7 separate regions of the Homo sapiens genome follow, and all the other regions are linked to region 1. Evidence: fine-mapped expression QTL. A gene starts in region 1. Each other region holds a variant in brackets. All regions are shown on one strand. Distances are from middle to middle. Region 1 holds the start of ITGB1BP1 (integrin subunit beta 1 binding protein 1). Region 2 overlaps ASAP2 (ArfGAP with SH3 domain, ankyrin repeat and PH domain 2). Region 3 overlaps ASAP2 (ArfGAP with SH3 domain, ankyrin repeat and PH domain 2). Region 4 overlaps ASAP2 (ArfGAP with SH3 domain, ankyrin repeat and PH domain 2). Region 5 overlaps IAH1 (isoamyl acetate hydrolyzing esterase 1 (putative)). Region 6 overlaps ASAP2 (ArfGAP with SH3 domain, ankyrin repeat and PH domain 2). Region 7 overlaps ASAP2 (ArfGAP with SH3 domain, ankyrin repeat and PH domain 2).

The links. PIP is the estimated chance that this variant, and not a neighbour inherited with it, causes the effect. A credible set is the group of variants that fine-mapping cannot tell apart.
Region 2: its variant is the best candidate, but not a certain one, in a credible set for the expression of ITGB1BP1 in whole blood (TOPMed, PIP 0.54).
Region 3: its variant is the best candidate, but not a certain one, in a credible set for the expression of ITGB1BP1 in lung (TOPMed, PIP 0.66).
Region 4: its variant is the best candidate, but not a certain one, in a credible set for the expression of ITGB1BP1 in whole blood (TOPMed, PIP 0.83).
Region 5: its variant is the best candidate, but not a certain one, in a credible set for the expression of ITGB1BP1 in whole blood (INTERVAL, PIP 0.50).
Region 6: its variant is the best candidate, but not a certain one, in a credible set for the expression of ITGB1BP1 in whole blood (TOPMed, PIP 0.58).
Region 7: its variant is the best candidate, but not a certain one, in a credible set for the expression of ITGB1BP1 in monocytes after LPS (Fairfax 2014, PIP 0.82).

What each region holds. Positions count from the first base shown.
Region 1 is chr2:9,421,333-9,425,398 of GRCh38, forward strand. It overlaps ITGB1BP1 (integrin subunit beta 1 binding protein 1), which reads right to left and starts at 2,196. Exons shown (of 7, transcript NM_004763.5): 1 at 2,041-2,196. It overlaps CPSF3 (cleavage and polyadenylation specific factor 3), which reads left to right and starts at 2,322. Exons shown (of 18, transcript NM_016207.4): 1 at 2,322-2,491. The coding sequence starts at 2,442. RefSeq lists enhancers at 647-1,505, 1,499-1,548, 2,419-2,468, 2,509-2,558 and a silencer at 1,689-1,988.
Region 2 is chr2:9,327,172-9,331,237 of GRCh38, forward strand. ASAP2 (ArfGAP with SH3 domain, ankyrin repeat and PH domain 2) reads left to right here. Exons shown (of 28, transcript NM_003887.3): 7 at 655-740. Among named protein-coding and RNA genes, the nearest start is that of ITGB1BP1, 94 kb to the right of the region's middle. The variant G/A (reference allele first, on the strand shown) is at 1,952.
Region 3 is chr2:9,314,957-9,319,022 of GRCh38, forward strand. ASAP2 (ArfGAP with SH3 domain, ankyrin repeat and PH domain 2) reads left to right here. Exons shown (of 28, transcript NM_003887.3): 4 at 3,568-3,642. Among named protein-coding and RNA genes, the nearest start is that of ITGB1BP1, 110 kb to the right of the region's middle. The variant G/A (reference allele first, on the strand shown) is at 2,014.
Region 4 is chr2:9,362,053-9,366,118 of GRCh38, forward strand. The region is part of intron 15 of ASAP2 (ArfGAP with SH3 domain, ankyrin repeat and PH domain 2); the gene reads left to right. Among named protein-coding and RNA genes, the nearest start is that of ITGB1BP1, 59 kb to the right of the region's middle. RefSeq lists an enhancer at 3,128-3,422. The variant C/T (reference allele first, on the strand shown) is at 1,773.
Region 5 is chr2:9,486,870-9,490,935 of GRCh38, forward strand. It overlaps IAH1 (isoamyl acetate hydrolyzing esterase 1 (putative)), which reads left to right. Exons shown (of 6, transcript NM_001039613.3): 6 at 1,278-2,873. The coding sequence ends at 1,460. ADAM17 (ADAM metallopeptidase domain 17) reads right to left here. Exons shown (of 19, transcript NM_003183.6): 19 at 1,617-3,649. The coding sequence ends at 3,308. Among named protein-coding and RNA genes, the nearest start is that of IAH1, 14 kb to the left of the region's middle. The variant A/G (reference allele first, on the strand shown) is at 1,598.
Region 6 is chr2:9,278,618-9,282,683 of GRCh38, forward strand. ASAP2 (ArfGAP with SH3 domain, ankyrin repeat and PH domain 2) reads left to right here. Exons shown (of 28, transcript NM_003887.3): 2 at 700-772. Among named protein-coding and RNA genes, the nearest start is that of ASAP2, 74 kb to the left of the region's middle. The variant C/T (reference allele first, on the strand shown) is at 1,682.
Region 7 is chr2:9,372,952-9,377,017 of GRCh38, forward strand. ASAP2 (ArfGAP with SH3 domain, ankyrin repeat and PH domain 2) reads left to right here. Exons shown (of 28, transcript NM_003887.3): 17 at 1,804-1,993; 18 at 3,957-4,042. Among named protein-coding and RNA genes, the nearest start is that of ITGB1BP1, 49 kb to the right of the region's middle. RefSeq lists enhancers at 515-1,063, 1,064-1,612. The variant T/G (reference allele first, on the strand shown) is at 2,454.

The DNA of each region.
Region 1 (4,066 bases):
AGCATTTATTAAAGTCTTTGATATCTGCTGCAATTTTGATGCATGTTCTCAAGCAAATCATTCTTGCCTCAAAATTATTCATGGGTGGCTCACGCCTGTAATCCCAGCACTTTGGGAGGCCAAGTCGGGCGGATCACGAGGTCAGGAGATCGAGACCATCCTGGCTAACATGGTGAAACCCCGTCTCTACTAAAAATACAAAAAATTGGCTGTGCGTGGTGGTGGGCGCCTGTAGTCCCAGCTACTCAGGAGCCTGAGGCAGGAGAATGGCGTGAACCCGGGAGGCGGAGCTTGCAGTGAGCCGAGATCGCGCCACTGCACTCCAGCCTGGACGAAAGAGCGAGACTCCGTCTCAAAAAAAAAAAAAAAAAATTATTCATGCATCAAAATGAGGCCAATGATCCTGATTGGCGATTGGATGCTCCGCAGGCTCATCAAATGCAAAGATGTCTCAAGCTGAACCCATCATCCTCCCCTCCAGATCTGCTCCTCTCCTCTCCTCTCCCTGTCAGGAGATTCTATTATTGCTGGAGGAAGCCAGAAAATCATGATTTCCTTGCTGTCCTTCAGGCCCCACATCCAATCTGGCACCAAGACCCACTGTATACCCCACCTGAAGAGCTCTCTGAGCCAGCTCTCCACCAGGGCCCCCGTCATCCTAAACCATGGGCACAGACACTATTTTTTTAGAAACTGATGAATGTGATGGATCCTCACCCTATAAAAATGCACATCCATACAAAGTTTGGCATGAATTTAAGGAATTCACAAACCCAAGGATATTTCGTGGATAAGGGACCTTGTCCTACTGGATTCCCTAACACTTTAAATCTACCCCCACACTGCAGCCAAAACGATTAAAATGATTTCTTTCAAACATGAATCTAATGCCACTAGCCTGCTGAAAATCTTTCACTGGTTCTCCAAAGTCAGAGACCAAAGTCAACGTTCTTCAGCACGACACGCCAGGTCCTCCAGGACCCAGCTCCTAATCACCTTTCCACTTCCATCCTCCACAACCCGGGCACAGTTCATTGATCTCAGCAAGGCAAAGCTGCTCCTGGTTCTCAGCGCGATGCTCCACGCGCCCCTGCTTTGCACCGCCCGGGACGTCCTTCACCTGTCAGGCACTTGGCTACTTCTTACCTTTCAAGGCCCGTTTCAGGCTGCAGGCCTTCCTGGGATCTCAAGGCTGGGGTAAGGGACCCACAGCTTGAGTGTACCCCCTGATCACAGCGCCACGATCTGCTGTGGTCTCTGATCTCACTCTCCCAGCTGCACGCTGGTCAAAGGCGGAGCTCGGTGACTCCTCTGCATTGCCAGGGCGCCTGGCAGGGGACGCGCTTACTGAAGCCGAGAACTTTCTGGGGAGGTGACACCCCAACAGCGATTCCCATGTACCAAACGCCTACCACGTGCCATGCACGGTGCTAGGTGCACAGATCCCTCTCACCCTCACCCTCACCGACCAGCAAGGCTGCAGGATAACAGCCCCTTTCAAACGAGGATGCCAAAGCGCCCGAAGAGTCAGTGACCTGCCCAGGGTCACCAGAGTAAGGACGGATGCGGCCAAGCTCGGGGCCTAGGGAGAGCCGGCTCCGAAGTTCCTCCCAGACGCCAGCCTGCTTGGCACCTGTCTGTCACCGTGATGGAGCACCTTCCAAGCGCTGGGTGCGGAGGATGTGACAGCGAAGGGGACAGACAACCCCGACCCTGAGAGGCGGGAGGCGGCCGAAGCGGGGCAGAGGAAGAGGCAAGGAAACGGCCCGCGGCCGCCCGCCTTGCCGCCCCTCCGGGGCGACAGCGGCTCGGGAAGCTGCAGTCCGCAAGCCCACGCCCGATCTGCGTGGTTCCAAGCTCCTCCACCCGCGCCCCGGGAGCGCGGCCCCGCCCGGAACCAAGCCCGAGCCCAGGCATCCCTCCTCCGCCCGCCCCGCGGCCCCACCCATCCTTCCTGGCCGTCCGCGCCGCTCTCGGGACCGTGTTCCCGTCAGGCCTCCGCGAGCTCGGCCCCAAGCGGGACGAGGGCTGGGCGCTCACCTCGCAGCCGCGGGCCCATCCCCGGGTTGCGGACTTCGGGGTCCGCGTGGGAGTGCCGCGGCCTTTGGCGCCCAGGCAGCTACTCCCGTTCCCGCTCCAGCGCCGGCTTTTCCAGCCCTCCTGCCCACGTCCGCCGGGCCGCGCCTCCAAGACTATGCGCAGGCGCAGTCCTGACGTCCTACCCCCGGTTCCAAGACCCCAAGTGGTGGGAAGCCTCGCGAGCGGCGTCCCCCGACCGGAAGTCGAGGGGAGGAGTCTAGTGCCGCGGGCTCCGGAGTGACGGAAGTTGTGCTCTTGGTGAATGGGGTTCTTCCTTTTTTATTTACCGGTGGCTGTGCTTCCAATTTAGGAAGACCCCGGCGACCTGTTCCTCACCCCCGCTTCGCCCTCACACTTTCGGGATGTCTGCGATTCCTGCTGAGGAGAGCGACCAGCTGCTGATCCGACCCCTGTAAGGGACCAGCGAGAGAGGGAATGAAGCCACGGGCTGTGAGGGGCGCGAGGGGTAACCGGAGACTGGCCTCCTCCGTCGCCCGCGCTCCCACCTACCCCGGCAGCCTGCCTTTGGTCCGCGCTTGCGGGCCAGGCTTCTCAGGCTCGAGGGGTTGGAGGACCGTTGATCGGAAGGGGCCTGCTATAGAGTGAACGGGATTTTGCTTTTTCATCAGTTTCAGGGGAGGGTATGTTGGAGTCGGAAAAAAAAAAGTTTTACGGGGCCACCGCTCGCTTTCGTACACGCTAAGAAGCGTTTTCACTTAGCACAAGCACGGATCTCTGCGCGTCAGGGCAAGCTGTGAGGGAGCCGGTGAAGCTTATGACCGACAGGATGAGAGGAGGACCTGAATGAGGCTACAGCCGTGCAGGGAAGAATTAAGTCTGTTTCTTAACACCAGGGCTTCACATGTGCCAGAAGTTAGAAAATATTAGGGACTTGCCGTGAGTTTCGATCTTCTCAGCTCAGGCCCTAGTAGAATAAGGAAGGTGTAAAGCTGGAGAAGAGAAAGTGCAGAGGTGTTAGGGACAAAAACTCAGCCCTCGACTGTCCATAAGGAGAGTGGCCTTTCAGTGGACACGATCCTCATCAGTCGGGAATGCTGCTGAAGGGGAGATGCAAATGTAGAGAACTTGAATTCCTACAGATGAGCATTTCGAACCCACAACATGTTTATTGTTAGATACTAGTTGGCACAACATGAATATACGCTTTCCAAAAGGTAGAAAGTATCTCCTTTACACAATCATTCAGTAAGGCTTCATTGAGCACCTGCTTGGGACATAGTCCGTTTCCTTCTGCTTAGTTCACACCTGTCATGTCTTCCTGTGATGAGCAAACACTGAGCAAGTGTCAAGCACCACACATGGGGATATAGACGCAACAGAGGGCCCAGTTAATTGCTCTCGCTCTTTTGGAGAGAATTACAGTGCACAGTGGGAAATATTGGAGAGATACTTTGGAATAATAGGAGACTATTACTTTGAAGTCAGACCTGAAGTCCATTATCTACTTGACCAATTAGTAGGACAACAATCTCACTGAACCCGTTTTCTCATATGGAAATAAGATAAAACTTGAAGAGTGAACATCGCGGTAGGTGCTTTGTAAATAATAGCTAATCTAAGAACGCAGGCAGGCATTGCACTGAGCACTGTGAAAGTATGGAAAAGGGATTTCTGACAGATTGAGGAAAAAAGGATACCTCGTGGATCCTGAAAAATGTGATGCCTGAGCTGAGTCCTAAAGAATGAGTAGGAGTTAAAGACTGGGGGGCCCAGGATGTTCTAGGCAGTGGAAGTGGCACATATGAAAGTGAGAGTGGTCACAGCTTGTGGCCAGATTCCTCATGGCTGTAGCTAAAGAGTTGAGTTAGCAGATGAAGCGACAGGCAGTTGAGGTCCAGTTTAGGAAGCACCTCGTATACACAGGAGTTTGGACCTTTATCAAGTCAATTACAGGGAGCCAGCGAAGGCTATTAAGCAAGCATGGATATTGTGGGAATTATGTTTTAGGAAAATCTCTCCTGGCAGC
Region 2 (4,066 bases), 94 kb before region 1:
ATCAGCAGCTTTTCCAGGGGACATTCCATTTCAGAGATCATCTTCTGACAGCGGAGGGGATGGGGACTCATGAAGTCCTTCTATTTCCTGACACTGGTTTTGTAGCTCCCTGAGGCTTTCTGATAGCTTCGTGGTCACTAATGAATTCTCCAAGTTAAAAATAGCTTTAATTCATTTCAATTAAACTTTGTTTTTTTCCAACAATCACATTATTTTCCTTGTAAGGGAAATGTCTCAGGACGAGAGACATGATGCCAAGCATCTCAGCTACAATACGTTAGCAGTTATTGTTCCTAAAGTAAGGGACCTTGGGCAGGAGTGTGTTTGAGATGGTTAGAAATCCCATTTATTTGAACCATCCATAGTCTTCCATGTAGCTAGAGTGAAGATTTCTCCTAGCAGGCCAGGATAGACTGTCTTATTATTAGGAGTTTTTGGCACTTCAATATTTAATTATCTGACTGTCAGATAATTCATATGGCCCCAAAATAAAGAAACGGTTACGGAATCCAGGCGATACTAAGTGTCGATCATGCACTCTACGCATTGTAAAAGATGCCAAAGAAGTAGAAGAAATCATCTCAGTCCTCAGAAGCTCCTTTTAAACTCGTATTCTGCTTACTTCCATGACATTTCCTTTTCATTGTTCAACAGTATCTGCTGAAGGTCAACGAAATCAAGATTAAAAAGGGAGTAGATTTACTTCAGAATCTGATCAAATACTTTCATGCCCAATGCAAGTAAGTTCTTCTCTGTTATGTTATCTTAAATGTTTGTTCATGTGTGGCAACTTCTGGTAGATCTATAGATAGCTCATAGGAAATAAACACCACTTAGAAGTCTATAGTAAAGGGAATGAGGTGCTGACTCATGCGACAACACGGGTAAACATTGAGAACACGTTCAATGAAGGAAGCCAGACACAAGAGGCCATGTACTGTATGATCCCATTTATTTGGAAGGTCAGGAATAAGTACATCCACAGAGACAGAAAGCAGGTGAGTGATTGCCGCAGCTTGGAGGAAGAAGGAAATGGGAAATGGCTGCTAACGGGTATAGGGTTTCTTTGTGGGATATTGAAAATATTCCAGAAGTGAGTGCTAATGATTGCACAACTTTGTGAATTTACTAAAAATCACTTTAAAAGGATGAATTTTATGGCTTTATGGCTTAGGGATTATATCTTAATTAAAAATAAAAGCATATATACAACATAAAAAATCTGTAGTAATTGCCAGATATATTTATTTTTGGCTCTTTTTGTAGAGGGACAAACTCATTTGACCTATTCCGCAACTCTCAGATGTTTGTTAAAAGAGAAATGATACGATGTTAATGCAGTGTTTTAAAATAAGAAAACACTTTTATATATTATCCTGTGGAGCCAATGACTGTGATGAGCAAAGGAAGATGTTAGTAGAGGAGAAGGAGAGGATTCCACGTGCAGGGGCTGCTCAAGTACTCAGCTTTGCCATCTGTGTCAGTACTTCAGTCTGACCCACGTCTCTGACCTGGCTTCTGCTCCTCGACCCCCAGTCACTGATATAGACAGGCCTCTGGCTCCTTCACTCACCCACCCAACACACATGTCAGGTGCTGGACCAGAGGCGAGAGACACAGTGATGTACAGTGCTGGCATAGTTCCTACTCAAAGAGTCAAGTAGGGAAGTTAGACTGAAAGAGACAAATTTCTAATTAGATGTTTACAAAATTGTTTTAAAGTATAGGAATCTAAGAAAGAATATAATACAGGGACCTGATTTAGATAAAGATTTAGGGTAGAGTTTTTTGTTTTTTGTTTTTCTATTTTGTTCCCTGATACAGTCTCCAACAGCCAGCACACAGTGCCCGGAACACAGTAGGTACTCGGCTGTTTCTTGAATGAGCTGCAGGCCTCTCTGAGGAGACATGGATCTGAGATCTAAAGTATGAGTAGGAGCCGGCAGATAAG[G/A]AGTGGGGGAAGAACATTCCAGGCAGGGTCTAGGTCTTAAGGCAGGAAAAAGGCCAAGGTGACATAAGCTCAGTGAAAAAGGAGAGTGGCGTGAAACGAAACTGCATGGAAAAGCCTTAGGGATGTGGATGGCCCCAGACATCTTGCAAAAGTTTTTAGATTTTATCCCAAATATGTTGGGAAGCTCTTGAAGAAATTGAAGCAGAGGACCATTTGTATGCACTCCTGTGATCTGCCAGGCGCTATTAGGGGTTTTGGTGATGCAGTAAGGAGGAAAACAAAGTTCTTGCCTTCACGGACCCTGGGGTCTCATGGGGGAGGCAAGTAGGAAACACGAGCCAATATTTAACTGAGTTTATGAAAAGGCAAAACAGTGATGGGGAGAGAGACAGTGGTGTTGGTTAGAAGCAGCTTCAGGAAGCTTCTCGGCTGTAACAAGATTACTCTGTGTGTTGTGGAGAAGGAACCAAACAGGACAAGGGTGGATGTGGGCAATTGCTTGTGTACACAGCTCCTGTCCCTGTGCAGACCAGAGATGACGATGGCCCACCTGGCTTCGTGACAGCGGGAGTGGAAGGTGTGGACTGACAAGAAATCTTTTCCTTGTGGAATTGCCATGCCTGTCTGCTTACCTTCCCAGAGCAGGCTGTGCCACCAGCAGCCTACCTTTGTACAGAATTGTTTCTTTTCCTAGAAGGCCTCTTTCCTTTGTGCCCTCCCTGTCTTCTGTTCCTCCTAGGACCCAGCTTATGGATCATTCCTGCTTTGCGATGCTTCTTCCTTTTGGAATTCCTTTTCTTCCTCCTGTGTTGCCACCACACCGTCTGCTTGTCTCCATGATGACATCTTCCTTGTGTCTCTGTGCCACTGAACTATATGCTCTTAAGGAAGGGGCCATGCCATTTATTTGTTTTATATCTACAGTGTGTGGCACATTTACCTGGCACGTATTTGCAGCAGTGAATTGCACTGTGGAATTGAACTGAGCTCTGCTTTGGAATTCTTAATACAGCTTTGATGATGTTGCATTTCTAAAGCACTTGAGGTCAGGCGGCAAAGGAGGATGTGCTGAGTGGTTCATCCAAAGTTAAAAGAGAGCTTCAGCCATTTAAAAAAAAGAAGAGTGAAATCATGTCTTTTGCAGCAATAGGGATAGAACTGAAAGTCATTATCTTAAGTGAAACAAGCCAGCCGCAGAAAGACAAATATCGCATGTTCCCACTCCTAAGTGGGTGCTAAGAAAGGCATACCCATGGATGTAGAGAGTAGAGTGACAGCAGAGTCTCAGGAGGGTGAAGGGAGTGGGGATGATGAGAAATTATTAATACTTAGTAGGTACAATGTATGTTATTCTGGTGATGGATACCCTAAAAGCCCTAAGTTGACCACCAGGCCTATAACAAAACTGCACTTGTACCCCATGAATTTATATTAAAAAATATAAAAAGAGAGCTCATCTCTACTTGGTGGAAAAGACCTTGCAATTATATAGTTTTCAAGATGAATTATTTTATGGAGACTCAAAATTCTTACTTTGTGATGAGCATGCAAATTACTTCTACAGTTCTTATGTCAGGCAATTTAGGAAGTGGGTCGCTTCCTTGCTGATATTTTATTTTTAAGAAGAAGCTATTCTGGGATTTCCTTCCCCCGCCCCTTTATTTTGCCCAAACCAGTCAGTTGGGTAGCAACAGACCACTTGTGGAAAAGTGAAGTAGTTGGCCTTTTATGGACATGATCCCAGTAACCTTTAAAAATATGAATCTTCCATTACTTCGTTTTTGGATATGAGAGAGAGTGTGTACGCTGCCTGCTCTTCAAATCAGTCAGGCAGCTTTGACTTTCTCAATTCACATTCTGGAGGGTACAACGTGGAGCTCGAGCAACTCAGCTGCAGAGTAAGAGCTCGCAGCCGTGCGTGTTTCCACGTGTGGGAGCGCCTCTCATTCCCCCACCACACACGCCCAGTTTCCGCTTCTCGCCCCCAAGGGCACAGCTTTGCCTGCTGGGTGCTGTGCCCTGCTGGGTACACGCGGGCCTCTGCACACTGCTGTGCTCCGCCAGGGTGAAGAGGCCACTGTGTAAACCAGATTCCAGGGCTCAGGTTTGGCTGTT
Region 3 (4,066 bases), 110 kb before region 1:
ATTGGAGGATCTGGGGGAGGGAGGGATCACATTCTGCTGGGGTTGCTTAGTAGAGAAGGTGGCGTTTGAGTAACTCCTGATGGATGAGAAGGCTTTGAACAGCAGGGATAGGGAAGACGTTTCCGTCGAATAGAACAAATTGAGCACATGCGTAGAATCAGGGAAGGAGAGAGTTCAGTTTGGAGAAATATGAAGATGAAACATGGAAAATAAGGATGGATTGTGGAGAGTGTGAAATGCAGGAATAAGTAGTTTAGTCTTTATTAGGGACACAACCCCAGACAAGCCTGCCATAGCCCTGAAGCGGGGAGTGGGGCAGGCAGAGACTAGGAAGCGGCAGCAGGGAGCAGGGGAAGCCATAGCCTTAGTCCTGAGAAGGAGCAGTGAGGCGCAGCCAAGGCAGTGGACGTGAGAATGGCATGGAGGGAATGTTGGAAGACGGGTCTGCGTATGTAGGGTTAAGACCTGGAATTTGTTGAGAAGCGTGCCGCACGGCTGGGTGGCAGCACTGGGGTCAGAGATGACTCTTGGGTGTCAAGCAAGTGAGGAGGGTGGGAGAGAGGGCTTTGTAGGAAGGAAGAGCATTGGAGGAAGGAGAGCTGGCTGCATACTTGGGGCTGCCTGCAAGTAGAGGGAAATGTGGCCCTGGAGGCGGGAACTGTGACGGGAGTTTCATTCCTCACTCACCTGTCTGGCTGCCAGGACTGTCAATGACAGTGGAAATCTAGGCGTGCTTGCTGTCGTAGGTTACTCATCAGCACGGCCTTCTGTTTGTCCTTGTTCCTTCCAGTCGTTCCTAAGACCGCACCTTAAACTGCGCTTTTCAGCATTTAAAAATTTAATGCTTAAGGCTGATCTTAGCAAGACATAGCTGATGACATTGTACCTTGGAGGAAGGCCAGGTACGTGAGAAATGTTGAGTTGTTTAATCCTAGGGCAAAAGTTCCCCAAAAAAGTTTATTTCTGAAATGACAGTCATTAATTGATCATTTATTTAGCAGAATTGGCTGTGGATGCAGACGTTATTATACACCTTACCAGTGTTTTCCAAGTACATTTCTGTTTCTAATGTAAAATTTAGTCCAGGCGTGGTGGCTCATGCCTGTAATCCCAGCACTTTGAGAGGCCGAGGAGGGCAGATTGCTTAAGTCTAGGAGTTCAAGACTAGCCTGAGCAACACAGTGAAACCCTGTCTACAAAAACTACAAAAAAAAAATTAGCCAAGCATGTTGGCCCGTGCCTATAGTCCCAGCTACTCAGGAGGCTAAGGTGGGAGGATCGCCTGAGCTCAAGAAGTTGAGGCTGAAGTGCCCTCCAACCTGGGCGACACAGTGAGACCCTGTTTCAAAAAAAAAGAAAAAAAAATTAGTACACTGAATGGTGTATAGAAATCGGATGCCATATTGCTTTAAAAGTGGTGCCATTTTATCTTCCTATTTAAGATAATTATACTAAAAATAAAACTTTCCTTTGCTTGATGGTATGAATGAATACATAAGGTCCCAAGTCCCTCTTCTCGTCCTTCTCCTTCTCTGGGCCTGTAATCTAGAAGCCCAGAGTGTCACAGAAGCCACAGGGGCCCAGCAGTGGGAACTGGCCCTTGGGTTGATTCAGGGGAGTGGTCCAAGCCTGGGAAGTGCGAAAGTGGGTTTCGAGCTCGTTTTCCACTTGAGGGAGGGAATCTTTTCAGGCTCAGGGCTCTGAGTCCGTACTTGAAGGCTCTTCCTGACTGAAGTTTCGCATCTTGAGTTGACTCGCATTTGAACTGCTGTCACGGAGACTTGCTTGCTCCTCGTGTACCTGTTGGTTAGGAGGCTTCCATTCCACCCAATTTAATCCATGCGGACGGTGTGTGTCCCCACTCTCCTGCCTTCTTGCTTCAGGGAGAAGAATGGGGGCACCAAGGCTCTTGCCCTTCCTGTTCCCTTTTATCTCCTTTGCCTAGCAACACCCCCCCAACACACACCCCCTCACAATCACACCCTCACTCTCACACCCTCCCACACACCCCCC[G/A]TCACACCCTCTCATGTCCACTCTCATACACTCTCACAACCACACTCACACAACATGCAATCATTCCCAATCACTCACATCCACACTCCACACAACCACACAAAATCACATCCACACACACACTCAACCACACTCATACCCCACGCAATCACAACCACACAACACACATCCCAATCACACCCACTCACATCCACACTCTCACCACACTCAACACACACCCCACGCAATCACACCCACTCACATCCACACTCACACAATCACACAACCACACTCATACACACCCCGTGCATCACACACACTCATATCCACACCCTCACACCCTCACAATCACAGCCCCCCACATCCACTCACACAATCATATCTTCACTCACACACACCCTCACACAATCATTCACATTCACCCCCAACTCACATCCACACACACACCCTCAAACACACACATGCTCCCTCACACACCTACACATACTCACATTCTCACACACACATGTGCATTCACCTTATACTCAGTCACTTACACCCTTACACACCCACTTACACCCCCACAATCACACCCCACACTCAAATCCACACAATCTCTCACATCCACAATCACACTCTCACACACCCACACACCCGTACACAATCACATTCACGCACTCACATCCACAATCACACCCACACACACCCATACACACATTTACACACTTACACAATCACTCACATCCATAATCACATCCTGAAACCCTCACACGCCCACACACACCCATACACAATCACATTCACACTCACATCCACACTCACACTCACATCCGTACACAATCACACCCTCACACACCCATACACAATCGCATTCACACACTCACACAATCACACCCTTAGTCCCTTAACATGCTCCCTCACACACCTACACGATCACTCATACCCACATTCACTCACATACACCCTCATGTGCATTCACTCTTATACTCAAGCACAGTCACACCTTTACACACCCACAACACCCTCACTCAGTCGTACACACTCATTGACACACACTCTCCGTCCCCAACACACACACGTCTTTTCTCATTCGCACCCAGCATTCGCTCGTGTGCCTTTGCAGCAGACAGAAGACTCTGCCTTTGTTTCCCCTGCTTGGAGCTTGCTGTGGAGACTGGGGCCTGGGGCCCAGAGCACCAACCCCAGTACAGTCCAGCTTATGGGTGGAGCCGTGATTGAGAGTCAGAAGTGGGGGTTTCCTTTTATTCTAGGCTTTCGACGTAATTCTGTCATTGAATGTTTTGAAATATTTTTTCTTCACTGCAATGATTGTCTCTTTACAAACTTTCTAGCATAACAATATAAGATTGTTACTGTGAAATATATACAGACCTAGACTTTTCATTAGCCCTCTATTCATTTGTAAGATGAAATTGTTACAAAGAATGTATGACTGAATAAGGCACAGTACATGCACCGGCCAGGTTTTAGGTGGAGGTGAATCATTATCAAATGTTCTCTCTAATGTCCTTGCTGTCCTTACTTTAGATTCACAAGGAAGCTGAATAAGAATCTCCTTTTGTTTTTGTTTTTTAGATTCAGAATATGAACAACATAATCTCCTTCCCTTTGGACAGTTTGCTGAAGGGGGACCTGAAAGGAGTGAAAGGGGTATGACATTGACACTGTGACACCAGGGGCAGCTTTTACACCATGTAGAGTCACAGTAGCTTGGCCTGCCGGGCAGCAGCCACGCCAGTACGTTCTCATTGGGACGATAGGATGGCTCTTTTATCTCAGCTTCCTCTGATTTGCCATCTTGGGACCACCTTTCAGCCAAAAAGGTGGTGACTTCTGGCCTTTCTGGCCGTCCTGTTGGCACAACAAAGTTGGTGAGGGGAGGAGACTGGGAAGGGAAAGAAAACTGCTATTTTGGAAAAAGTAAAGAGTTTCGGTCTCTCCAGGGAGCAGGGAAACCTGTGGGAGGAGTCGGGCTTTCTAGCTGGCACGTTGCCCATTTAGCACTGGGAAAGGATCCTAGCAAGGGTGTATTTTCCTGCTGGGAAGGTCGCAGTCGTCAGGCATGAGCCAACTT
Region 4 (4,066 bases), 59 kb before region 1:
TATTAGTTATCATTGTTATCTCCTTTAACAAAATCCTTTCAGAAAAATGGTCCCCATGTGCTAGCATGTGAACCCCCAGGGAGGCCATGCATGGTCTGTCTGGTTGTCTGTTCTTACGAACCTTTCCAATTCAGAGTTGCATGCCATGCAGGGCCTCGGCTGACTTGCTTATTGAAGTATGTTTTATTGTATAGTGAGTGTTCATTAGGCCCCTTGGTGCCTTGTGAAAGGAGAGTGGTGGGTGCAGCCTGGACAGGTTCTCTCACAGGAGTAGCATCTCTCCTCTTTTGGGTAAATAGAACAGCCTCTGTTTCAGGGTGACATGCTGTGACAGCAAAGGATTTTATTTTTTTAATTAATTTTTTATTGCATGTATTTATAGTGTACAACATGATGTTTTAGTATGTTGTATACATTGGGTGTGACTAAATCAAGCTAGTTAACATATCTGTCACCTCACATGCTTATGTTTTGTGGTGAGAACACTTAAAATCTACTCTCTTGAGCCTGGTGTGGTGGCCGGCGCCTGTAATCCCAGTACTTTGGGAGGCTGAGGTGAGAAGATTGTTTGAGTCTGGGAGTTCAAGACCAGCCTGACCAACATAGGGAGACCTCCATCTCTACAAATAATTTTTTAAAACTAGCTGGGAGTGGTGGCAAGTACCTGTGGTCCCAGCTACTTGGGAGGCTGAGGCAGGAGGATCACCTGAGCACCCAGGAAGTTGAGGCTACAGTGAACTGTGATCTTGCCACTGCACTCCAGCCTGGGCAACAGAGTGAGACTGTCTCAAAACAAAATTTTTAAGTATACAGTACGTTATTATTAAGTAGAGTCACTGTGTTGTACACTAGATCCCTAGACTTTATTCATCCTAACTGAAATTTTGCATGCTTTGACCAACATGCCCACCCCCAACCCCTGGTAACCATAGTTCTGCTCTCTACTTCTATGAGTTCAGCTTTTTTAGATTTTGCATATAAATGAGATCTTGCAGGATTTGTCTTTCTTTGCCTGGCTTATTTCACTTAGTATAATGTCCTTCAGGTTCATCCATGTTGTCACAAATGACAGAATGTCCTTTTTTTCAGGTCGAATAGTATTCCATTATGTATATATACCACATTTTTAAAATCCATTCGTCCATTGGTGGCATTTAGGTTGATTCCCTATCTCGACTATTGTGAATAGTGCTGCAGTAAACAAGATGGTGAAGACGTGTCTTCAACAAACTGATTTCAGATCTTTTGGGTAAATACCCAGAAGTGGGTTATATGGTGGTTCTAGTTTTTCGAGGAACCTCCATAACCATTTTCTATAATGGTTGTATTATAATAATTTACATTCCCACCCAGTGTGCAAGCCTTCCCTTTTCTCCACATCCCTGCCAACACTTGCTATCTTTTGTCTTTTTGATAAAAGCCATTCTAACAGGTGTGAGATGATCGTGGTTTTAATTTGCATTTCCCTGATGATTTGTATGATTAATGCTGTGTACTTTTTCATACATATACCTGTTGGTCATTTGTAGGTCTTCTCTTTCTCTTTTTTTTGACAGGTTCTTGCTCTGTCGCCCAGGCTGGAGTGCAGTGGTGCCATCTCGGTTCAGTGCAGCCTCTACCTCCCAGGCTCATGCAATCCTTCTGGGTAGCTGGGACTATAGGCATGTGCCACCATGCCCAGCTAATTTTTTAAAATTTTTCCATAGAGACAGGGTCTCACTATATTGGCCAGGCTAATCTGGAATTCCTGGGCTTAAGTGGTCTTCCAGCCT[C/T]GGCTTCCCAAAGTGCTGGGATTATAGGCATGAACCGCCTGCAGCCTAGCATTACTTCTTTTCCAATGGAATGGAAGTTGCATAATTGAATTATTAATTAGTTCTGGGGAATCATGTCATCTTAACTACTTTAGCACACACCAGCTTAATATCTTTAGATTCTAAAGCAAACCTACTTTGGGAAAAACTTTCTGGTAAACACAGATTTTAAAAAGATAAATTTCCTTCTTAATGTAGAAGATCATGATTTCAGCTTTGATTTTTCAGGTCATATGAAAAACAGTATCACTGGTACTAGGGTACTACTATCATGATCAATTTCACTATCATACATGAAGTTAATAAAGGAATTCTTGATATTCTGAAATTGAATTTGAGTCAGTCATTTAAAAATCTTATGAGACCAGGCGCAGTGGTTCACACCTATAGCTCCAGCACTTTGGGAGGCTGAGGCAGGCAGATCACTTGAGCCCATGAGTTCAAGACCAACCTGGGCCACATGGCAAAACCCCATCTCTACAAAAAAAAAAAAGTTAGCTGAGTATGGTAGTACATGCCTGTGGTCCTAGCTATCAGGGAGGCTGAGGTGGGAGAATCACCTGAGCCCAGGAGGTTGGCTATAGTGAACTGAGATTGTGCCACTGCTCTCCAGCCTGGGTGACAGAGTAAGACCCTGTCTCAAAACAAAAAAACATCAAATTAAAAAACAGGCATCAAGAGCATTACCAAATATTTACTGACTCAGCTTTCTGTTTCTTGACTTTCTTCTATTTCTGTTCTCATACGGTTGTTAATAAGCTGTCAAATGTTAAAGCGGGTCAACACACAGTCTGATCTGAAAGAGAGCATGTGGAGAGGAAAGCTCCTCAAAGACGAAGAACTTAACGACTTACAACTGTCTTCTAAGTTCACCTAGGACTGAAATGTGCCACCCAGATACTAAAAGCAATTGCTTAGGGCAACAGGAAATTGACTATCAGTGGTCATTTACGGAGGAACTGTTATGCTCCAGGCATTGTTGTAGGTGTTCTACGTACACTGTATTATCTAACCTAAATGGAGAGCTCCATTTTTAAAAAAAGACCAGAGAGGTTAAGAAACTTACCCAGTGCAGGATTTACATTCCAACTATCAGACTCCAGAGCCTGTGTTTTAGCCTTTTTTTTTAAAGCCAAGATTCTGAACATTTTTTAAACCACAAAGTCTATCAGAAAAAATTGAGCACCAAAGCATGTACTTACTTACATATGATGTACCTACACTTACTAAGAAATACATACTTTGTAAACTACATCAAAAATAGAGCTTTTAAAGGGTCAGGTAAAGACATCATATGTAAACTTTTTCCCTGCACACCAGAGTGTCCTTTTGTGCTCTTTGCTTTGGAGGCAGCAGTTTGGTCAAGCCCCTTCCCTTGTCTGGGCCTTTACCCTCTGTACTTTAGAGCTGGACTGCACTCTTCAGGCCCTCCACCCTTCGGGGATCCAAGGGGCCCAGTTAACATCAGGGAGGAGCTGACCTTGGGGTCTCCTGAGCTCAGCGGTCAGGGAAGTCTGGTTTCTCTCACTTGCCTGTTCTCTCCTGGGGTGAGTCAGAGAAGAATGTCACAGCAATTGTTGTCCTTCCTCATGGAGACATGAAAACAGGACAGGAGGTTTCCCTGCCCCACCCCAAACTCTCAAAACAATGTCCAGATAAAACCTAAAGCTTCATTTTGGCTCAGTGGGCCCTGCTCAGGTAGGTGCTAAGGACGTACAGGTGTGTGATTCTGTGTCTCTGTCCTGGGTGTGGCCATCAGGGAGGGAGATGCCCACACACAGACGACTCCCCCGTATGGTGAGTGCCAAGAAAAGGGGCCTCCTGGCCAAGGGACTGCTCTGCTCATCTGGGCCTGGTGCCGCTGTCCTCATAGTGTTCAGGATGAACTTCTTTTCCAGGGCTTCTTATTGACTCATCGCTACCTTGTTGAAGTGAGCTGCCATAGAGCAGGAGGGTGCCTCATGCCTCATGCCCAGCACAGACGAGGGGCTCAGAGTGTGCTCCTGAGGCCACAGGAAGGGCGACGGACTGGGCTGAGCTACCCTGGGTGATACAGAACTTAAACACTCCCTCCTCTCCTCCATCCAGTCTGGCTCAATTTCTGCCTCAGTGCAGCCCACAAATTCCTTCTGGGTGCCAGTGAGAAGCAGGAGATGCCAGGGCTCAGGTCGACAGCCACCTTCCTGCCCCCTTGGTTTCTGCCTGCCTGTCCTGCTGGCACCTGCAGCCTCCATTTGCAAATGCTTTGCTTTTGT
Region 5 (4,066 bases), 66 kb after region 1:
AGATTCTAACAGAGCTCTTGGCTAGTGAGATTCTTCCCCAAGAAAGAAATGGCTGTATGGGTAAAATTCTTATAGTTCAGGGCCTGGTATGGCTGCTCATGCCTGTGATCCCAATACTTTGTGAGGCCAAGGTGGGAGTATTGCTTGAGCCTAGGAGTTCAAAACCAGCCTGGGCAACATAATGAGAGACCCATCTCTACAAAAAGCACAAAAATTAGCCAGGTAGCCAGGTATGGTGGCACGTGCCTGTAGTCCCAGCTGCTCAGGGGGCTGAGGTTAGAAAGATCGCTTGAGCCCAGGAGGTTGAGGCTGCAGTGAGCCATGATCATGTCACTGCACTCCAGCCTGGGCAGCAAAGCAAGACCCTGTCTCCAAAAATATGTGTATCTTTTTAAATATGTACTCTTGAGTTCAGGGCAATGGGAGGGAGACTGGACTCCTGTGTCCCAGCAATTACTGTTCTAGGTTAGATGGTAGAAGTTCTTTCTGCCTAAAAACCTGCCTAGAGTCAAAAACAATATTGACTCATGGGGCCCCTGAACACTCCTAATACCAAATTTTTCATTTTTGCTGATTACGTTAATAGGCCATATTTACCTGTTAAGGTTCTTTCAAATAACCTGAGAATCATGTCATATGATTCAGAAGACCTGGAATGAGGTCCCAGCTCACTTAATGGTGAGTGACTTTCATGAAACTCAATTCTATAATATGGAGACAGCACTATAGCACTAGTCAGGGTTCTCTGTGTGTTCAAACACCTACGTAAATAGCACATCAGTGCTACTGTAGTCCAAGACACCTCTGGTCAGATGCCTACAATGAAAGGGGCTGGTGATATTTCTGTCGCAGGGCCACAAATGAGAGAATGGTACACACTGGCATTTAGAAAAGTTATACCCTCCCTCCCCGGCCTTTTTGTGTGTGTGTGTGTGTGTGTGTGTGTGTGTGTGTGTGTGTGTGTGCGCGCGCGCGCGCGCGCTGTGGGGGGAGACAGTCTATCACCCAGGCTGGAACTCAGTGGTGCAATGATACCTCACTGTAGCCTCCAACTCCTGGGCTTAAGTGATCCTCCCATCTTCGCCTCCCAAGTAGGTGGGAATACAGGTGTTTGCCACCACACCCAGCTAATTTTTGTATTTTTAAAATTTTTTGTAGAGACAGGGTCTCAAACTCCTGTCTTCCAGTAATCCTCGGCCCCAAAGTGTTGGAATGACAGGGGTGAGCTACCACACGTGGCCAGTTACCCACCTTTAACCGATTTCTCTCCCTTCTAGGACTTCTCATCTTATTTATCAGATGGACTACATTTGTCTCCAAAGGGGAATGAATTTTTGTTCTCGCATCTCTGGCCTTTGATAGAGAAAAAGGTCTCTTCTCTACCTTTGCTGCTTCCTTACTGGCGGGATGTAGCAGAAGCAAAACCTGAATTAAGTCTGCTGGGAGATGGAGACCATTAGCCAATCACAGGAGACCCAAATCTGCTTGTTATCTACAGAACTCAAAGTTGTCAATACGTAGAGGTACGCTTTTTTCCTCAGGCTTAAACCTTTGCCACTGATATTAATAATAAAAGTATTAGATGATTTTTCAGGGA[A/G]GTTTTATACTTAGGTCCATTGTGTTTCGACAGTATTTATTAATGCAGATATCAGTGCTACAGCTATAAAATATACCCTGAGCAGCTTGTTAATTCTATAAATGACAAAGACTATGTTTTTAAAAAGTCACAATTTTATAAAAATGGTTTTTCTTACATTCTTTTGAGAACTGTTTCACTCATACATACACCCACACACCCCACTCAACCTTGTATCAAATTCCAAAAGTGTAACTAAAGTATAAGAATATCATGACTAGTTAAAAGATAGCAAATACCATAAGGTACAAGTTCAAGTATTAGTATAACAAGTATCTGAGTAACAAATGTCCTTGGAAATGGGGGGTAGGAGGAGATATGATTAGTCACAGGTTTGGTTAACTGCCCTCAAAATTTACAAGTTAAAATGTTTTGGCTGGTGAGCACATTTCAGTTCTTAGGGGAAAAAAAGCTTTTAATGGCAATTTATAGAAATCAGAATCCAGGCTAATGATTTTTATCCTTCACACAGTAAATGCAGCCCATCCAGAATCCTGGAGCAATAAAGTAAGAAGTAATTCAAATATCTGCTTGTGGGTCAATAAAAAGGGTTTCTGAAGTATCAAGTCTTGTGGGGACAGCCCCCAACCCTAAGGGCAGGTAGTATTCTATCTCCTGGCTGGCTCATCACATTCAAAACAACCTGTTTTTTTTGTTGTTGTTGTTGTTAAGAAATATCTCACCCTCTTATTCAATAGTGTTTGAAAACAGGCAATCTTTGTATTTTAAATATTCTAGGTTTGTAGATAGTGAATTTTTTTTTTTTTTTTTTTTTTTTGAGGCAGAGTCTCACTCTGTCACCCAGGCTGGAGTGTAGTGGCGCAACCTCAGCCTCTCCAAGTGCTGGGATTACAGGCATGAGCCACCACTCCCAGCCAATAGTGAATTTTCTAAGAGCATGTATCCCTATCAGTAACAGGGATACATGAAGATACTTATAAAATACAGAAAAACTGCCCAGCAAATCAGGGCCCTAAACAGTTGGTAGATTCCATAAATTCAACTGGCTACCATGTATAGCCCTCACTGTAAGGTAGGTGGTTAGGTTTCTAGAGAGCATTAGTCTTAGAATTATGAAGAGCCATATTAACCCAAATGATTTCTAAATTTAGATATATATTTTCCCTGCTACATAAAAACTCTGGGTAATAACTAGAAATAGACCCACAATTTAGAGACAATGTATACTAGATTTATCTCCTTTGTTTTTAGTTGAAGGCAAAAAAAAAAAAAAAAAAAAAAAACTATTCCAGTTGTCATCACAAATAAATGCCAAATGCCTCATATTCAGCGGTTCATTACAGTGTATAAAAAAAAACTGATCATTTCCCTAGTCAGTGCTGTTATCAATATAAAAGATTAATTTACAAAAACGTAAATATTCATAACCCAATCCAGCTGTATTTTCTGCTTTTGCACCACAGGTCAAAAGATATTTTAAAAACTAAAACCTGAAAGCCTCAAAATAAGCTAGATTCACCTTCACCTTACCTTTTCAAAAGGAGAAGGGCCAAACCACACAAGAACTGTTTACCTGCAGGAAGTTCAAACACATGACCAGCATCTGCTAAGTCACTTCCCAGTCTTCACAAAATACAAGCTGTGATTGATTTGTAGGTCAAATCTATAAAAATATTTTGCACACTTAAGTCAGAAGAGCTGAGAACTAAATTAGCACTCTGTTTCTTTGCTGTCAACACGATTCTGACGCTGCAGTTTAAAGGAGGCAGCCTTTTCACTTCTGGTGACCGGATGGTCCGTGAGATCCTCAAATGACTTGGCAGCTGTGCTGCTATTTGGGAAGGGGTCCTTCTCAAACCCATCCTCGTCCATATGTGAGTCTGTGCTGGGGTCTTCCTGGATGGTGTCCATTCTCTGGTGGTCCAGTTTTGGAGCTGCTGGCGCCGAAGGGATCACAGGGGCAGGCTGCAGGCGGCCTGGAGTCTGGGGCGCAGGAAAGGGTTTGATAATGCGAACCGATGCAGAATCCATGCTGCTCAGCATTTCGACGTTCTGCAAAGACATGGGTTCAATTGATTGATAGGAATAAAAGATGAATCGGAGGTCCTCACAGCTCCACCCTTACCCATCAAACAGCCTCTTATTCTGTTGGCACTGTGATGCTAAGAAAAAAGTGCTAGGTGAGGCTCACTCAACCTAAGTGACTAAAAAATACTAGGTTGGTGCAAAAGTAATTAATGCCATTACTTTTAATGGCAAAAACAGTAATTACTAGCTTTCAAGCATCCTGAAAACTTACTTACCATTTGAAGACCCAAAAGAGGATTCAAACCTCTCAAGGTAAGATCCCAAGAGAGAAATTGAACTCAAAATATTAACTAAGTGTTGAATGGCTAAATCACTCCTTATGGCTTGGGAAGGGGACAGCACAGCTCTTTAAATGTCCATCCATGCAACTAATCGAAGTTC
Region 6 (4,066 bases), 140 kb before region 1:
TAACTGTTTGAGCGCCTCCTATGTGCTGGACATTGTGAGTGCCATAGACAACTGCCGTGTAGTAGCTGGTCTATAAACATTTGCTGAATATTATATATGAGAGTACCTCTATCTAATTATTCAACCCTGCAAAGTGGGTATTGTTCCTGCTGGTTTCTGGAGAAGAAATCTGAGGCTCGGGAAGCAATAGGACCCGTCTTCTAACACAGCTTACAAGCTAATGATATTTGGGTTTTTCCAAATCCAGAGTGGGGTTGCCTCCACCTTGTTAGGGCTCTATAGGGGGAAGGGGTGCAGGCACGATAGGAGTCCCTGGCAGGCAGGGGCATCCTGGAGCCTTGCTGGTAACCAAGGAGAACGGAGGGTTCGGCTGGAGTAATTCACTTCGCTGCAGAGGGCTCACGTCCAGCAGGTGCTGTGGGCAGGAGACAGCTTGCATGCTGCAGGAGGAGGAGTTGGTTTTCAGTAATTGCCAACAAACTTCTGCTTAGTGCCATTTGGAAACCAGTCTTCCACACCACACTGAGGGCTTGTCTCCCAGAAACAGGTGCCGAGGGACCTGGCAGAGGAGGCTTGTCTCCCAGAAACAGGTGCCTAGGGACCTGGCAGAGGCAATCAGAGTGGCACTCAACGTGGTGCTCGCTGCTAGCGTGGTCTCAGCACAGACACGGTTTAATGACTGTATTCTCTACATTTTAGGCTTTGGACGTGGACCGGATGGTTCTTTACAAAATGAAGAAATCCGTGAAAGCAATCAACAGCTCTGGGCTGGGTGAGTATACATCCTTCCCTAGAGGTTTCTGTGTGGAAAATGTCGCATTTGAAGTCCTGGTACCGTAATATTGATGACCATTAACAAATGAGCCAGCTAGACTCCTTTATCGGGGCATGCAGATCACAGAGGTGAGCTGGGATGTTTCTTTTTCAGAAGTATGTTTTGTTTTGCCAGTCGTCTGATTCAGGTGTGGGATTTCGTCCCCTGTCATCCCCTGTCATCCTCCGTGCTGTCTGTCCCACGTTGCACTTCCTGTTTTCTGGAGCATCGTCCTGCACGTACCCACTTTGTCAGCCTGGCTGATGGGGGCCTGGATTCATTCCTGCCTCTGTCATTTGGTTTTTGCTGTTAATTGTGTCACAGTGCCCTTTCCGTTTCTCTTTTACCCAGTCTTGCCTTTTCTAGTATAGGAAGAAAATGAATAAATAGACAAACATAAAGTAATATTTGATCTAGATTTACACATACATATTTTTTACACATATATATTTACACATATATATTTTTTAAACCCATGCAACTTTTGGCTTAAAGATGACAAGTAGGTCACCTGTAGCATACCTTCCCTTGTACAAATCCTACGAGTGATACAAAATATTTTTTAAAAGTCGTTAAGTGACTATATAGTTTCATTCAGCAACAAAAAGGTGGCATCCTTGCAGGGCTAGGAACTGTGAGGAGTCCCTGAGAGACTGAAACAGGGCTGATGGGTTGCTCAGGGGAGCTTGCCCGTGCTCAGGTGCAGATAGAGTTTGGGTGACAGGGTGGGAGGAGGAGGGGCCTGGGGTCTGCTCCCACTGAAGTAGTCAGGTCCCTTCATCTATACTGTGTCCCCTCACCCTCGTGGTGTCTTTCTTTAGTGAAAGGGGTGATTGGAACAGGAGGACAGGGAGTGCCTTAGATGGT[C/T]GTGGTGTCAGGAGGGAAGGGGAAGAGCCTGGAAGTACACATTCCACCTGCTCCCCCCCACCGCCCCCACCAGTTACAATAGGGCGGGCACAAGCTCCAGTTGCCGCTCTTGATTCTCCCCCCATGAGAGCTGTGCAAGCCACAATCGGGAAGAATCTAGCAGGAAATCCCAGGTGCAGGATAATGTTACAGTTGAGCATTGCCAAGTGTATTTAGGAACAAATTTAACAGAAGACGCACAGGAATCCTACATCAACAAGTACAAAACGCTGCTGACCAAAATGAAAGAAGACCTAAATGAGAAATATGTGATGCACAGGGGTTAGAAGAGTCACCACTGTTAGTGTCAGGCCTCCCCAAACTGATCTGAAGATTCACCCCAACCCCAGTCAGAATTACAGCAGCGGAAATTGACAGGCCTTTTCTAAAACTGATACAGAAGGTGGCCATCCGTCTCTAGCTTTTTTACCTGGATTAAGTGTGGGGCAGGGAGCAATAATGATAGTTTTGATTTTTTTGAACACTTACTGTGTATCTTGTGCTTTCTGTACATTGTGCTAATCTTGTCAACAACTGATTCTCCTTATACAAATGAGTAACCTGCAAATCAGAGAGTTCTGGGTGTTCCCAAGATGTCTGTGCAGCTGGAGCTCAGACCCTGATGGTCTTACTGCTGTGTCAGGGTTGTGTGCAGTGAGTGGCCCACTCTGTTTCAAAGCCACCATGCCTTCAGTGTGTCTGTCACACGGGTGACATCTTGAAGACTTCAGTGAGTCACTAAGAAATGGTACGCCCAGTTTCATTGACAAGCACCAGATTTCAAAAAGTATCTTGGAAGATTTTTTTTTTTTTTACTGCGTTCACTTGGACTTTTTGAGTTTATAACTTGAGGGATATTTGATATTCTGGTCAGACTCAAAAATGATTTTATAGTCATATGTTGAAAAGGTTGCTCTTATCAGAAATAAAAATGAAATAATCTGTGTCTTATGCAAACACTGGCTGTGTAGCTGCTGCTCGTCTGGAGGAGAGACTTGTGTGACTCCCAAGGCTGGCCCAGTGGCTGGCAGTACAGCTTATAAACAGCCCTGCATTTGAAGGGAGAAGGCGCTAGTGCTTCGGTGTCAGGAAGCTGGCCTGCAGGAATTTAACAGCACCTCTGTCTAATTTGCCATGCTGACCTATATTGCTGAGCGTGTACCACAAACCTCATTCCTATTTCTAACCACCCCCAAGCGTCGTTTGCTAAAATGCAACCCCACTGGTGTTACTTCTCTGCCTAAAACTCTATAGCATTTTTTCATCACCCTCTTTGAAGTTCGTGGAAGTCAGTTCCAGAGCATGGGAGAGAGAAGGAAGGCCTCTGTGGGCTTCAGAATTTTAGGGCAATTGGGATAAAGATGGTTCTCTTACCACAGATCCATCCAAAGATTTTAATGTGCTAGTAATGTGGATTGTGAGTGGTTATCGTTCTTAACCCTTTCCCAATTCATCTGTCGATGAAACTGTCACTGCCTCCCCTGATCACCCCACTGTGAGCCTCAGGTGAGTAAATACTGCAGAGCACCAGATGAGTTCCGAGCTCTTGTGCATTGCCTGGACTCAGGCCACCTGTCCCGACCCTCCCCACCTGGACTCCTCTGTGCCCTTCTTTGAAATAACTTGCAGTTTTCCCCAGAGAGCCACGTTTTATGCCTTCTTCCCTCTGCTCATGCTCTGCTGTTTGCTTAAAATAGCATTTGCCACTTTATGAAAGAAAACTGAGGTCCAAGGAAGTTGAGAAGTTTGTTCAAAGTCACAAAGCTCTACAGTGACAGGGCTGGGATTTTAACGTAGCTCCTTGGGCTCATGTCCTTTTTGAGGCCCCGCACATAACAGCCTGGCATGTGACCTTGGAGGGGGTCTCCTATTTTTGTCATCCTTTAGCCATCTATTATGTCATGCCAAGTTTGAGTTATTCTAAGGTCATGAGTCTGAGTCCTGAAAAGTCCTAAGTCCTAAAACCAGAGCCTGATCCTGAAATCTTTATTTCGGAACAAGCGTTGTCTACTGCAAAGAAGTCACCTGAGGAAACGTGATACTTTCTCCTGTCATGTTGATGACATCATTCACAGTGTCTTTAGAACTCTTTAGAACTGCTTTTAGTAGCACGTTCTTTTGCATATATTTAGTAGAGAAGTCTAAGGATAGATTAAATTTTTTTAGAACTAGATGTCAGAAATAAGTCAGGCATATTCAAGAAGGGACTGAGTGCCAGCGACCACAGTTGGCTTCGGTGCACTGTAACTACAGTCATGGGCTCTGAAGGCAGCTGGTTCCAAAGGAGAAGTCCCCATAGTGTTTTGATCACGAGAATAAAGACCAAAGGCAATTCCTGTATAGGAA
Region 7 (4,066 bases), 48 kb before region 1:
TTTTTCTTAACATTATAACAAAATGCTGTTATTCGAGGGCCTGTTGTGCCTACAGGTGGAGATGAAAACTCATGGCACTGTTGAGGGAACCCACTGAGACCACGTATCTCACACACAAGTCAGCCAGCACCGCAGTGAGCTCAGTGCACGGGTTAGCGCTGTGTGGACGGGGAGCATGTGCCGGGGGACGTTGAGGCACCCGCCTTAACCTAGGCCCTGTAGAGCGGGCAGAACTGGAGCCGGAGCAGGAGGGAGGCAGTGTGATAAAAGTGCCAGAGCACAAGTTCACCAGGTGCCCCTGGAAGTCCTTCCTGGGCTGTGAAGCATGCTGCCTGCTCAGGTGGAACGGGCACCCTGGGGCGTGATTTCCTCTCCAGCTGCACCAGCCAGCCTCACGCTGCGGCGTGTCCAGGAGCCACATGCACCCAAGGACAAGCAGATTTGAGGCCTGGCAGACGCTGGCAAGAGACCTCTGCCCACTCAGTTCCGTCTGGGTGCTGTGGGAGTAATGGCTTCTCATCTTAGGCTGGCCCATCTTCAAGGGACCCCAGGGTAGACAGGATCTCTACTCCCTGCCTCCAGTGGCATGTCCAGGGAGCTCAGGCTCCCCTTCTGGGGGGCCAGTTGTTCCACGGGGATTTAGGGCAGGTACAGAAAAGTCAACAACTGCTCCAGCAGCCATGGCCCCTTGCCATAGTCAGCTGAGTGAGAGAGCGGAGGTCAGGAGGGAACCGTGCGGGGACTCCAGCTCGAAGGGGAGCAGCCGCATTTGTCCTCAGATTGTAGGCAGTGCTGTGTTACAAATGGATGCAACTGATCTGCCCCTGCCTGGCTCTTGCCTGATTCTCAAGATTCAAAGAGTCCCTGGGCAGTGACCCTCAACCTTCAGAATTGGGATTGTAAAATGCATGTACTCTGTGACCAGTGAGCTGCTGTTTCGCTCTCCCTCTTGTAAGTTCACTGGGTCTTTCCAAGGCCCGGGACCCACTGTGTGTGCTGCAGGTGTGTTGACGCACATACGTCTCATGGTGCTACTGTGAGGATGTATTGTGTGCATTTTCGCAAGTCAGACTTACAAGTCTAGAGAGATGAAATACTTATTCAAGTTCAAAGCAGCAGTGTGTGGTGGGAGTGGGATTTGAACTCAGGCTTCTTTGGCCCCCTTTTGTTCCTGCTTCTGTAGGCTCTTTGGATGGGGCGGAGTCTGAGCATGTTGCCACATAAAGGCCAGAAAGTAGAACACAAAGAGGACTGCCATTTCATTTCAGTTCATCTGATAGTGCCTTTCATACCAGGCATGGTGCCTACAAAAAAGAGGTCATAGTCCATGCCCCAAGGAGCTCATGGGCCTGTCGGGCAGTGAGGCAGGCAGGCCTTCATGTAGAGAATGTTGGAACAGAGGTTGGCCAGGGCTGCATGGAGGGCAGGGGCAGGGCCTTCCTGGGGGAGGAGGCGCAGGGCATGCGGATTGGAAGGACCTGAATAAGAAGGGTGTGGAGGTGACGAGGGCGACAGTGAGGTCAGATCACAGAACTTAGGAGTGAGGGGAGGGAGACAAGGCAGAGAGGCGGGTGGGCTGAGAGAACATGGGGAGTTGTCCCCCTGGCCAGTTCCCAGGAGGTCGCAGTGAAGACCAGTGCAGCCGTAGAACCACATGGCGGCCACTCCCGCTTTGTGTTTCGGGGCCAGCGGTGCTTACCAGGGACATGGCGCAGGAACCGTTAACATGGCCTTAGACAAAGGGAGGCCGGACGGCGGGTAGAAGCCCTTCATGATTTGCAAGGCAATTACGTTTGGTTTCAGGAATGCAAGAAAGGACTACATCACAGCCAAGTACATCGAGAGGAGATACGCAAGGAAGAAGCACGCGGATAACGCGGCGAAGCTTCACAGTCTTTGCGAGGCCGTCAAAACGAGAGATATTTTTGGATTGCTCCAAGCTTATGCTGATGGTGTGGATCTTACGGAAAAAATCCCACTGGCCAACGGACATGTAAGAGTGTGGGTTGTTGCTACTTTAAAAAAAAAAAAAAGGCCGGCCACGGTGGCTCATGCCTGGGATCCAGTACTTTACTTCAGGAGGCCAAGGCGGAGGATCCTTTGAGCTCAGGAGTTTGAGATCAGCCTGGGCACCATAGGGAGGCCCCATCTCTACAAAAAAAAAAAAAAAAAAAAGTAAAATTGGCCAGGCATGGTGGTGTACATTTGTAGTCCCAGCTACTCAGGAGGCTGGGGTGAGAGGAATCGGTTGAGCCCAGAAATTTGAAACTCCAGTGAGCCGTGATTGTGCCACTGGACTCCAGCCTGGCCGACAGAGTGAGACCTTGTCTCAAAAAAAAAGGAAAACTGGGGCACTGTGGCAGGTCTGTGGAATCAGCAGTACTGACCAAAGCTGGGTAATTCTCCAGAGGAAGACGGCACGGAGAGGGGTACTGGGGTAGAATAAACTAGGG[T/G]TTTTTCTTTTCAGTAGGAAAATAATTGTATCTATGTTCATGGGGTATGCTGTGATGTTTTTGATCTATGTTTACATCATGGAATGATTACATCAAGCTAGCTAACATATCCATTACCTCACAGGCTCATCCATTTTTAATGGAGAGCACATTTAAAATCGACTCAGTTTTGAAATAGACGCTATGTAGTCTTACCTGGAGTCACCAGGCTTTGTAGTAGATCTGCAGGATTTATTCTCCTTGTCTAAAACTTTGTACCCACCTAGTGGTTTATTCTTACACCAAAAATGTAATGCCAGCTCTGGAAAGAAAACCCATCTCCAGGTGGAGGAGAAGACATCTCAGAAGCTAGGCAGCCTGAGAGGGACCCCTCATCTGCAAGCAGGTTTAACCTGAGCTTCATGCTAACGAGAGAAGCTCTCTGAGAGGGGCGGTTCCCTGGAACCCACACCCCACTGTGCTCCCCCTCAGAGGGAATAGAGTAGGAGCAAGACCCCTCCTTTCCTGGGGGAGCTGTCTTGAGAGGGTGGGCATCCAGCTGGAGTGGGTTTGCAGTAACATACCAGCACCCAAGTGGGGTGGCATGTGTCCAGATTCTGGTCCACAAATACCCTGTAGATGCACATTTGGTCCCCTGGAACCTCCTGACCTCAGGACTGGGCTGGCTGCCTATCAGCAAGGATGCCTCACGGCTGCAGCATCTTTCTCTTGGTAACAGGCATGTCCGTGCAGGCTCTGAGCTGGTCCCACTCTCTCCCCATCCCCAGAAAGAACTCATGCCCACCAATGCAGTGTGGAGGGTGCCCAGCACTGAGCTGTGCTGCCGCCAGAGGGCCCAGCAGGCAGGGCAGGCGGCCTGGGAAGCACCTTCCTTTGCCCTCACCTCCTGTCTTCTGTATCTGTCCTTCTCCTCTGGTTCTCTCACCCACCCACCTGCTGAAACAATCCTTGTTCATCTCTTCTCCCCCACCTGCCAGGTGTACTTTCAGAAAAGGCAGTGGAGTTGGGGAATCCCCAGTATGAGTTGGAGACAGTGCAGTTATTAGCATTCGTAGCCTTGTCTGTAAGTGTAGAACGCAAAACTTTAAGCCTGCTTAAGAAACATATGTTTCTACTCAAGGAGCAGGTAAAGAGATTGGATTGTAGGTGGCCTGGGGGACCTTCCTGGATCCTTTGAACAAGATTCTTGCTTGCAGGCAGGGATCTGCCTTGTGGTGCTGATGCAGGGATGGGGACAGGTCGATTGAGAGGACTTAGAAATGAAACTCCTGAACTTCTCATTTATTTCCCATGGAGTCAGGAGAAACAGGACGAATCTCCAAATTGCACGTTCCCAAGGGCAAAGAGCTTGTGTAGAGATTAAAGAGACTCTATGTAAGAGATAAGTTTCTCGAAGGGAAAGATAAAAGACTTTTGGAAGAGTTGTACACGATTTCACCGGTGTTGGACACAGAATTGAATGCTCCCATTAGAATTCTGGAATGCCTTTGTTTGGTTTTTCAGGAGCCGGATGAAACGGCCCTCCACCTTGCAGTCAGATCCGTGGATCGAACCTCTCTTCACATTGTAGACTTTTTAGTTCAGAACAGGTAGGTGTTCTGAAATTAAGGGAG